Homo sapiens: one gene and its partners. The protein of the gene in region 3 interacts with the protein of the main gene of each other region in a biochemical or structural test. Each region holds a gene or a part of one and is shown on either strand. Other genes may lie near its edges.

Region 1 (3,655 bases), on a different chromosome or scaffold from region 3:
ATCACTTGAAGTCAGGAATTCAAGACCAGCCTGGCCAACATGGTGAAATCCTGTCTCTACCAAAAATGCAAAAACTAGCTGAGTGTGCTGGTGGACGTCTGTAATCCCGGCTACTCAGGAGGCTAAGGCAGTAGAATCACTTGAGCCCAGGAGGTAACGGTTGCAGTGAGCTGAGATCACGCCACTGCACTCCAGCCTGGGCGACAGAGTGAGACTCCATCTCAAAAAAAAAAAAAAAAATTAGCCGGGTGTGATGGTGTGCACCTGTAGTCCTAGCTACATGGGAGGCTGAGGCATGAGAATCACTTGAACTCAAGAAGTGGAGGTTGCAGTCAGCTGAGATCACGCCACTGCACTCCAGCCTGGGCAACAGAGACTCTGTCTCAAAGAAAACAACAACAACAACAACAAAACACTATTTTTACTGAGACAGCTCTTGATTTGGAATGTAAGTTCTGGAACAAGAGGGAGCTTTAATAATTAAGCTTCCTGGCCTGCTGAGAAGCTCAAGTTGTTTCCCATAGTTCTTCCCTGGCTTGAGCTGCTTGAATTTACTGATTGATTGAAAGGTTGGAGGCTGTCATTGCCAGTGCTTTGCAAGTCAGGTAACCATGACGGGAGGCAGACAAAAGCTGTAGCTTTTTCTTTTTTCCCTTTGCAGCATAGGCTTATCTCTTACAGTTCATGTTGTCTTGGCTGCTAAGAGCTTCATATGTGAGACCCAAACACACAGTGACATACACCTGCTCGGGCACCTGTTTCATTTTTGGCATTGAGGAGCTGGGATGTTGTTACTTTGTATATAGACAGCAGCAAATAAAACTTGCAAGAGGAGCTTCTCCTTTAAGGCCAAGAGAATTTCGAACTTCAGTTCTCTTAGAGTTTGAATGGTGAAGACTTACTGGATTTAAGCTATATCCCTCTGAGGGCAGGACCTGGTAGTAGACCTAGTACGTGATATCAGTCAGCACTGCTTTCCCTTTGATTTTATCGTAAGCCTTACCACAAAGTGGATCTGTCTGGGTTTGGGATTTTAATAGAATATGGCATGAGAAAGCAGAGTTTATTGCTATTTGCCATGCTGCTAGTCGTTATACTATCGTGGTGCTTTAAAAAGAAGAATACTGACCTGTGGTCTTTCCTTAACATAGATAGGAAAAATATCTAAAAACAAAAAGAAAAAACTGAAAAAGAAACAGAAGAGGCAGGCTGAGTTATTGGAGAAGCGCCTGCAGGAGATAGAAGAATTGGAGCGAGAAGCTGAAAGGAAAATAATAGAAGAAAACATCACCTCAGCTGCACCTTCCAATGACCAGGATGGCGAATACTGCCCAGAGGTGAAACTAAAAACAACAGGATTAGAGGAGGCGGCTGAGGCAGAGACTGCAAAGGACAATGGTCAGTGGGGCCTGGAACCTGGGCTGCATGGGGTTCTCAGAGCTCCATTAGTAGGGTTCTGCCAGGTCAACATGGGGGCTGATTTGTGCTGCTGCTGCAGATGACAAGGATGATTCTCTCCAACTCCCTATTGGGAAATATGGGAAATAGCCTCGTACTTCATTTGTGAACTGTATGCCAGAAATATGTTAACATTTCAAAATAGTTTTTAAAAATGTAAAATAATTGAGAAATTCCATGTTTCTATCATGCTAATGATGGTGCTTTATTTTGTCATTAACTTTTTACCTAACTGTAATGCACCACAAGTCTGTTTCTGAAGATTATAGAGGGTAGAAATGGAAGTGCAACTTTATTTAGAAAGAGTTATTTTCCCTTAAAGCTAACTTTTTCTTATAAGAGCAGGCCAATTACTAAATGAATGAAAAATGAGATTTAGAAAACCTGAAGGTTTTACCCCAAAAGCCAAGAGGTGTTTACCAGGTGGTACATAAGCATATTCAAAATGTATTTTATTGATGGAGATAAGTACTTAATGAGGCTGTATTAAGGAGAGTAACAAGTTCTAATTCTTGACCCATCAAATTCTTAAGGTGAAGCTGAGGACCAGGAAGAGAAAGAAGATGCTGAGAAAGAAAACATTGAAAAAGATGAAGATGATGTAGATCAGGAACTTGCGAACATAGACCCTACGTGGATAGAATCACCTAAAACCAATGGCCATATTGAGAATGGCCCATTCTCACTGGAGCAGCAACTGGACGATGAAGATGATGATGAAGAAGACTGCCCAAATCCTGAGGAATATAATCTTGATGAGCCAAATGCAGAAAGTGATTACACATATAGCAGCTCCTATGAACAATTCAATGGTGAATTGCCAAATGGACGACATAAAATTCCCGAGTCACAGTTCCCAGAGTTTTCCACCTCGTTGTTCTCTGGATCCTTAGAACCTGTGGCCTGCGGCTCTGTGCTTTCTGAGGGATCACCACTTACTGAGCAAGAGGAGAGCAGTCCATCCCATGACAGAAGCAGAACGGTTTCAGCCTCCAGTACTGGGGATTTGCCAAAAGGTAAGTGTTTCTTCCCATCAACTGTCTGCCATCGCTGACTCCAGGGACGTGCCTTTAACAAATGCTGTGAAGGAATTGGCTGGAAGTGGCCAAGCCCTGTGTGTGTGTACTGATCAGTTTTATTACTTTTATACTCCTGAAGAAGTAATGTGATTTAAATAAATTTTCTATGCCATTAGGCTATTTCTTGCTCTCTGCATACCAAATCTTATTTCTGACCAGTTTTCATTTTTAATATATTTAGTCAGCAGCATCATTTGCAAAAACCTTCCAGTTTTAGCAACTTACACCTTTCTAGAATGTGTAGTTTAGTTTAAAATTCGTATCTTCTTCCATCTAATGTCATTATATTTAGTTTAGTTTAGTTTTGTTTTGTTTCTATTCAAGAAAATTATGCCTCCTCTTTGACTCTATTGAGAAAGAAGTGTCATATTGTCTTTTGATAGTTGTTCCTGATTATAGGACCCTACTATTGGTAACTGGCCCAGGATTGTAATTTTCAAGGAATTGGCATGGATTTAAATGTGATGACAGATTATAGATTGGCTCTTGTGTTCTTGTCTACCTAAGAAGGCTTGACTTATTCAAAGCCTTATTTTGGGAGTGAATGCCAAGTGACTCTAGTAAGTGAAAACTGGGTAACACAGCTGGTTTCCATACTGGCTTATGGGGGAAAAGCTCTGAAACCTCCCTCTGCTCCCTCTACTGACAAGACTGTTTAACACACAGCGAGTAAAATTGATGAGCCAGCCCTGCAAACAGCCCGACATTCTGCAGCCCCTTTGGTTCCAGCAGTCTGGAATTGCACGCCGAGTAAGCTGGCTTTGTTACGCACTGGCTATGATGAATCCTCCTAAGGATTTGCTTTCTTTACTTGGCTGGACGTGGTCAGCTCCTGTTCCCCTTTCCAGGGAGTGTTTGAAGGTGCTTACATAGAATGTAGGTTAATTTCTGGGAAAGGGCAGTAGTGAGAGGTACCTTATCCAGACTTATTGTTGCTGTTGCAGTTCAATTTTTCTCTTACTTGAAGTTTCTTTTTTTTTTTATGAGATTGAGTCTTGCTCTGTCACCCAGGCTGTAGTGCAGTGGCGCGATCTCGGCTCACTGCAACCTCTGCCTCCCGGGTTCAAGCGATTCTCCCGCCCCAGCCTCCTGAGTAGCTGGGATTATAGGCGCGTGCC
Region 2 (3,655 bases), on a different chromosome or scaffold from region 3:
TTTTTTTCTTTTTTTACTTTTTGTAGAGATGGAGTCTTGCTATGTTGCCCAGGTTAGTTTCAAACTCCTGACCTCAAGTAATCCTCCTGCCTCGGCCTCCATATTTTCTTTGTTAATCTGTTGATAGACATATAAGGTGATTCTGTATTTTAACTATTGTGAACAGGGCTGCAATAAACATGGGAGTTCAGATATATCTTTGATATACTGATGTTCTTTTTTTGGATATATACCCAGCGATGAGATTACTGGATCATATGAAAATTCTCTTTTTAGTTTTTTAAGATACCTCCATACTGTGTTTCATCATGGCTGTGCTACTTTATATTCCCATCAGCAGTGTACCACCATTCCCCTTTTTCTGCATCCTTACCAGCATTTGTTATTTTTTGTCTTTTTGATAATAGCCATTCTGCCTGTGGTGAGATAATATCTCATTATGGTTTTGATTTGCCTCTCCCTAATGATTAGTGAAGTTTAGGATTTTTTTTTCATGTACCTGTTAGCCATTTGTCTGTCTTCTTTTGAGAAATGTCTATTTGGATCTTTTGTCCATTTAAAAATAAGACTTTTTTTTTTTTTTTTTTTTTTGCTAATTGAGTTTTTTTAGTTCCTTATGTATTCTGGTTGTTAATCTTTTGTTGAATGGATATTTTGCAAATATTTTCTCCCTTTCTTTATGTTGTCTCTTCACTTTGTTAATTATTTTCTTTGTTGTGCAGAAGCTTTTTAGCTTGATATAATCCCATTTGCCTATTTTTGTTGTAATTGCCTGTGCTTTTGAGGTCCTACCCCAAAAATCATTGCACAGACCAATGTCCTGTAGCATTTCCCCAGTGTTTTCTTCTAGTAGTTGCATATTTTCAGGTCTGAGATGTAAGTCTTTAATCCATTTTGAAATGATTTGTGTATATGGTGAAAGCTGTGGATCTAGTTTCCTTCTTTTGCACAGCCAATATTTGATTCTCACTGAAATCTCACTGCCCTCCTGGAAATATTACCGGATGTTTTACTGTCATAGCGAAGTGAGAGTAAGCTGCTCACTGAGGATCAAAGAGCTTGTGACAGACCTAAGACTCAAGTCTTCTCACACCTTCAAAATCTCTTTCCATCATACAATCTACTAGCTGCTGAATTCGCAAGCTTTTTGTGCAAGCTAGTAAAAAGCAAAATGGTTTGATACAAATACTGTGGCCATGCTAGGTACAATGACATCAATTTAAATTATCATTGGTCTTAACAAGGGGATGTAGAAAGGGGTCTCCTACTGACATTTTAATACTCACTTAAAAGTAGTATTTTTCCTTCAGATTTCTTTATATTATTAGTATAATTACTGTAAGTATCCTTTACTGCTTTATATGTTGAATTAGCTGGAAGTGCCAAAAGAAAAACTCTTAATGATAAATTTAAGGTATTAAGGTAAATTTCTCCTTCATTTAATTTAATAGTAATTCTTAATTACTATTTAAAATAAAGATTAAGGTTTGTTTCTAGATGCCATTTAACATGATATTCCAGACTGCCAGTTTTATTTTCAAAGTTTGTTTCATATTTTATTAATGTTTCTTCATAAATGACAGTCTTTAGAAAATTGACGGTTAAGCTAGGTGCTTTATATTTTTCTTTTCCTGCCTATCTTTTCACTGTGCTCCTAAATTTTACATCTCTTTATTCTCAAGGGTTCAACCTTTGAAGAAGGGGAGCAAAATAAATGAAAGTGGCTAAAATTTTTTCTTTAACCCCTAGACTCTTTCCTGTTGTGCATTAATTACATGCTTGAGTTTTTAGAATAATTATAATAAAGTAAAACTACCAATTTAATTGTATTGTAACTGTGCAAGATGGGAACCTTCTCTCTTAGAGAGATAAGCTTTTAATTGAATAGATTAATGGATCAATTGTTACCTCTGCTTTGCTGCCAGAGATTCTATTTAATCACAGAAGTTCCATGTAGTGCTGGAGAGCTCAGTTGCCTGAATCTTTTTGCAAAGCGTTTACTGATACTGTTGCTTCACCAACCAAAACAAACAGGTTTTTTCCTTGAGTCAGCTTTGTAGGTACAGAGATGAGTTTGGCATCCTATGTGACTTTTTTTTTTTTTTTTTTTTTTTTTTTTACCACCAGAAGCTGTTCAGAATGTTATTTTCTTAAATAGTTCGGAAAAAAGTCTTGATGTATTCTATGAAAGCACAAAAATAGTCAGTTTCTATGACAGCTGGATTGTCAACGTCTGTTCAGCTTACGTGGAGGAGGATGTCCTACTTGAGTAGTATAGGTAGAAATAGCTATCAGAAATTGCCGCCTTTGAAAGCAATTTGAAATTATGTAAAAGGAAGTAATGACAAAATAAAGCAATTTATGTTTAATCTGGAAAAGATCCAAAAGTAATATTGTAAAGAGATCTTGAGTAATCATTTTTATCTTCCTAAAATAGCCGTTGTTTACTCCCGTAAGCGAGTAAGAAACTTGTGCCATTATTCCTTATTGGGTGCATATAGATTTCTCACCTTGTCATTCAACTCCTTGCAATATTCAACTTTACTTATGCATCCAGCCTTATCCCAAAATAGCCTCTTCCCTGTAGCAGCTTCCTTATCATGTAGCAGCCTACTCTCCTCACCGCTCATCCGTTCTTATACAATCTGGCTTAAGCTCTACCTCTTCATATTATATTCTTCTCTGAGTAATTTCAACTCACACTGAGTCTTACTTTCAGTATTTCTATTATATTGGTATTTATTACACATCACACTTAGATACTTTTCCATTAGTCTCTAGAGGGTACATATATGCACTTTCTCTTTTTTTTTTTTTTTTTGACCATGTCAAGTATAGTTCTATAGTATAATAGAATGAATTGGAGATCCTTTACATTTAGAGAGGGAGGAGTCTACAGTAGGAAGAATAGGTTAATTTTCATCTCCGGTTTGAAATCAGGACTTTCAATTTTTTTTTCAGAGGTAAAGAGCAACTTAGTCAAGTTGGCATCTTGTAAACAGACTGAGTGAAGATATACTTAAAATGCATCTATAATTTCATATTTTATTTCGAAATGTGAAAGAGCCTACTAGGGGTGTCTGTGATCTCTAGACCTTATCAATTCATTCTAGAGAAATCTGGAGGGAGCCATTGAGGAGTTCTACCTCCTGTCTATTTTATAGAGCTCTTTCTCTTTTTCTCCTATCAGATGTAGATTCAATTGCTAAAAATGCCACGTTTCTTGCCTCTATTATTCTAGCTTCATTACTTGGGGAGCAGCCATTCTGATAACTTACATTTTGCTACTAAAATCTCCAACTTCACCTAATCCTTCATTATAAGCCACTTCATTTTTTCCTATAATTAAAATTTTAAATATGTGGAGGAAATTCTGTCAGGTAGATATGACTTAAAACCTACTAAGGGCCAGGTGCAGAGGCTCACGCCTGTAATCCCAGCACTTTGAGAGGCCAAGTCAGGAGGATTGCTTGAGCCCAGGAGCTTGAGACCAGCCTGGGCAACAGAGCGAGACCCCTGTCTTCACAAAAAAAAAAAAAAAAAAATTAGCTGGGTGTGGTGGCACATACCTGTAGTCCCAGCTACTTGGGAGGCTGAAGTGGGTGGATCACCTAAGGACAGGAGTTCTAGGCTGCAGTGATCTATGATTGCACCA
Region 3 (3,444 bases):
TAAGCTAGGCTCTACAGGGAGCTATGATATGCTTATGATGTAGTCTCTGTCTTCATTTGGGGAGAAATTGGCAAGAGGGGTAGGGACTTAAAGGAATGACAGATTGTCCATGGATATTAAAGAAGACTTCATGGAGAAGATGGTGTTTGACTGGGGCCTTAAAATATAGGTAGGGTTTTAATAAGGAGATAGGGAAAGGAGTGCATTCCATGAGAAAGCAGCATGCACACTGGCTCAGAGGTGGTGATGCCAGGGTGAACAGTTTAGATTTTTGGTGTAGGTCATAATGAACCTTCAAAGCCTTTTTACCTGGGGAATAACTCAGGAAGATTTTTCTGCCAGAAGTATATAGGAGAAATTGGAGTGGGGACAGCCTGGAGCTTCAAAGGTGCAAGTGGTAGAAGCAAACAGAGCTTAACAATTGATTGGATTTACAGGGCAAAAAGGGGAACAAAGATGAGTCCAAAGCCTGGGAAACTGGGAAATGATGTGCCATTAACTGAAAATAGGATAACAAAAAGTGGATTTGGAGGGGTATGTGGAGAAGTGCTTTTGAAAATGGGAAATTGGAGAGAGGCCCATACACAGAAATGATCATTGAAGCTGTGGGGCTAGTTGAGTTAGCCTGGTTGATTGTTCAGCAAGAAGTCTGAACCTAAGGAAAAACCTATCTATAGGGGGTGGTGGGAAGAGAAAGAGCCTGCAAAGGAGAAAGAACTGGATCAGTCAGTGGTTGTAATCATGGTCAATCAGGGGTCACTCAGCAACTGAGTGAGAAGAGCCTCTAAGTTACTGCGGACAGCAATTATTGTGGCTTGGTAGGTGATGTGCAGCATAGGATTGTTTTATAATGTTCCTTTCATTTCACAGACTAAAAATTCATTCTGGTATGGAGTGTCCTGAAATGAATAATATTCAAAAACAACCTTTGTTGTAAAGATGGCATACATCTCTGAATGTTATTGGTCACTTTACCATTTCAAGTTAAAAAAAAGTAAATCCTATACCACAAAATGTTCAGGGCTTCTAACTTAGAAAGCATTAAGTAGAACATCATCAGGCTCCTGATTGGTCAGGGCTCTGGCTCAGTTTCTAAGTATCTCCTAATGTGGTAAGAAGCAGCTGGTAAGACTCAGTCTAAGACCCATTGTGTTCATTGGGACAAGAGAGTGTCCCAACTGTTTTATCATCTGACTCTTAGAATATGGCTACAGAGATCCCATCTCCTTTGCCCCTACAGTGAGCTGTGACCTCTGTATATTCTTCACAGAAGCACAAATTCTTAACAGCAAAAATATTGTTTTTTTTTAAAGCCTATTCAATTTTAAAGCTTGATATGGTTTGTCTGTGTCCCCACCCAAATCTCATCTTTAATTCCCACGTGTTGTGGGAGGCACCTGGTGGGAGGTAATTGAATCATGGGGGCAGGTCTTTCCCATGCTGTTCTCGTGATAGTGAATAAGTCTCACGAGATCTGATGGTTTTAAAAAGGGGAGTTTCCCTGCATAAGTTCTCCTCTCTTTGCCTGCTGCCATCCATGTAAGATATGACTTGCTCCTCCTTGCCTTCCACCATGATTGTGAGGCCTCCAGCTATGTGGAACTGTAAGTCCATTAAACCTCTTTTTCTTCCCAAACTCAGGTATATCTTTATCAGCAGTGTGAAAACTGACTAATACAAAGCTTCTCTTCATAAATTGGGCATAATAAAGGACATCATCATGGCCACAGCAGTATGCATGCATTCTTGACTGTGGCCAGTATTCTCTGGAACATTGCAAGACTAAGATAACCTTATAAATGCCAAATAACAGTAGTTCTTTTTGGTTCATTTAAGTAAATTCTAGATCAAGTAATGGGACCTCAAATTTCAAATGAATTTTTCATGTCTTTCTACCTCTCCCTACAGCTCATTTCCCTACAGGAACAGTTGCAGCGTTTTCTGAAGAAGTGAGGAGAGCCATTGGCGTGGCCCACAAACCTTGGATTCACCATCCAGACTGCAGATTGGATGAAACTGTGCACGTTTTTGTCCCTTCAGTTGCCTTATGTTGAATCAGTTATATTTATCTGTACCTTCTTTGCTACTTAAAATATGCTCACAGTTTGTAGTCATGTAGAAAAGGCCAGTATAAAAATGTAGTAGACTTAAAGACCCCACTCGACCATGAGACTTTCTCTTTGTCAATTTGGGAATTATTATTATTAATTTAGAAATGGGGTCTTGTTATGTTGCCCAGGCTGAATTCAGACTCCTGGGCTTAAGGGATCCTTCCGCCTCAGCCTCCTGAGTAGCTGGGACTACAGTTGTGCACCACCACACCAAACAAGAATTGATTATATTGCTTCTGTGCTATGGTACCAGCAGATTATTCAGCCATGCTTCTAAAGGCAGTCTAGCCTAGAGGCCGTACAGCTGTTTGGTTTGCATATGTTTTAGCTTTTCTTTTGGTTTTTAGTATTTCCTAAAACATAGGGGAAAAAACGAGGTCATTTCTACTAAGCACTAGGACCTGCCATAGTGAGTTTAAGTGCCTACCTTGCAGCAGTTAATACTAGATTGTGTTCTGTCTCTGTTCAGGTAACAGGACTGCATTCCTGCTCAAGGATGATTCCTTGCTGCTGCTTATGTTCTGTTGTTTTTAGGATGGAGCTGGTTGTTATTCACCAACTAAGGGAACAGTTAGAGCAGAGATGAAGAAATTATGAACTGTTATCCTTATTCTGAGCCTTCTCCTCCTAACCCTCATCAGTTAAGGTTAGGAAGAACAAGATGCCATAATGCCTATGAAGACTTCTTTAACAATCTTGTTTGGGTTTTTTTCTAGGTATATTATTAGTGTTTTATGGTCTATGTTCTTTAAGCAATAAATAAATTGTTCATTTTAAATGGATTGTTGTCAATTTATTAAACCATCCCCCATGATGAGTGTACTCATATCCAAACAGAAACAAGAAGAAAAGCAATAAGCTCTATATCTTAGTTCATTTGGGCTGCTGTAACAAAAATACCATAGACTGGGTAAATATAAACAACAGAAATTTATTGCTTATAGCTCTGGAGGCTTGGAAGTCTAAGATCAAGGTGCCAGCAGCTTTGGCATCTGGTGAGGGGTTTGTCTGCTTCCTAGCGTCTTCGGGGTGCATCCTCACATGACCGCAGGGCAAACAAACTCCCTCGGGCCTCTTTTAAAAGGGCGCTAATTCCATTCATAAGGGTGGAGCCCTCATTACCTAATCACCTCCCAAAAGCCCTACCTCTTAATACTAACACATTACTGATTATATCTTAACATATGAATTTTGGGGGACACATTCGGACCATAGCACTCTGATTAGAAAATGGCAGAAGATGCTATCAGCCTTGGGGCATCCTTCCAGAGTTCTTAGGGTAACTCCTAATAAACTAAGCAAATAAAATCCCAATGCTGTATTGTTAAGGTGA

What was found.
Region 1: of the proteins of TAF7L (region 3) and SRPK2, one has a biochemical effect on the other in vitro, tested with the Homo sapiens proteins (one large-scale study listed by BioGRID and IntAct).
Region 2: the proteins of TAF7L (region 3) and LRRK2 interact on a protein array, tested with the Homo sapiens proteins (one large-scale study listed by IntAct).

The regions. Positions count from the first base shown.
Region 1 is NC_000007.14:105,140,827-105,144,481, reverse strand, and holds part of SRPK2 (SRSF protein kinase 2), read left to right. Parts: intron 1-1,151; coding exon 1,152-1,398; intron 1,399-1,991; coding exon 1,992-2,474; intron 2,475-3,655. UniProt on the Homo sapiens protein: Serine/arginine-rich protein-specific kinase which specifically phosphorylates its substrates at serine residues located in regions rich in arginine/serine dipeptides, known as RS domains and is involved in the phosphorylation of SR splicing factors and the regulation of splicing.
Region 2 is NC_000012.12:40,227,865-40,231,519, forward strand, and holds part of LRRK2 (leucine-rich repeat serine/threonine-protein kinase 2), read left to right. Parts: intron 1-3,655. UniProt on the Homo sapiens protein: Serine/threonine-protein kinase which phosphorylates a broad range of proteins involved in multiple processes such as neuronal plasticity, innate immunity, autophagy, and vesicle trafficking.
Region 3 is NC_000023.11:101,267,702-101,271,145, reverse strand, and holds the end of TAF7L (transcription initiation factor TFIID subunit 7-like), read left to right. Parts: intron 1-1,908; coding exon 1,909-1,953; 3' UTR 1,954-2,889; downstream 2,890-3,444. UniProt on the Homo sapiens protein: Probably functions as a spermatogenesis-specific component of the DNA-binding general transcription factor complex TFIID, a multimeric protein complex that plays a central role in mediating promoter responses to various activators and repressors.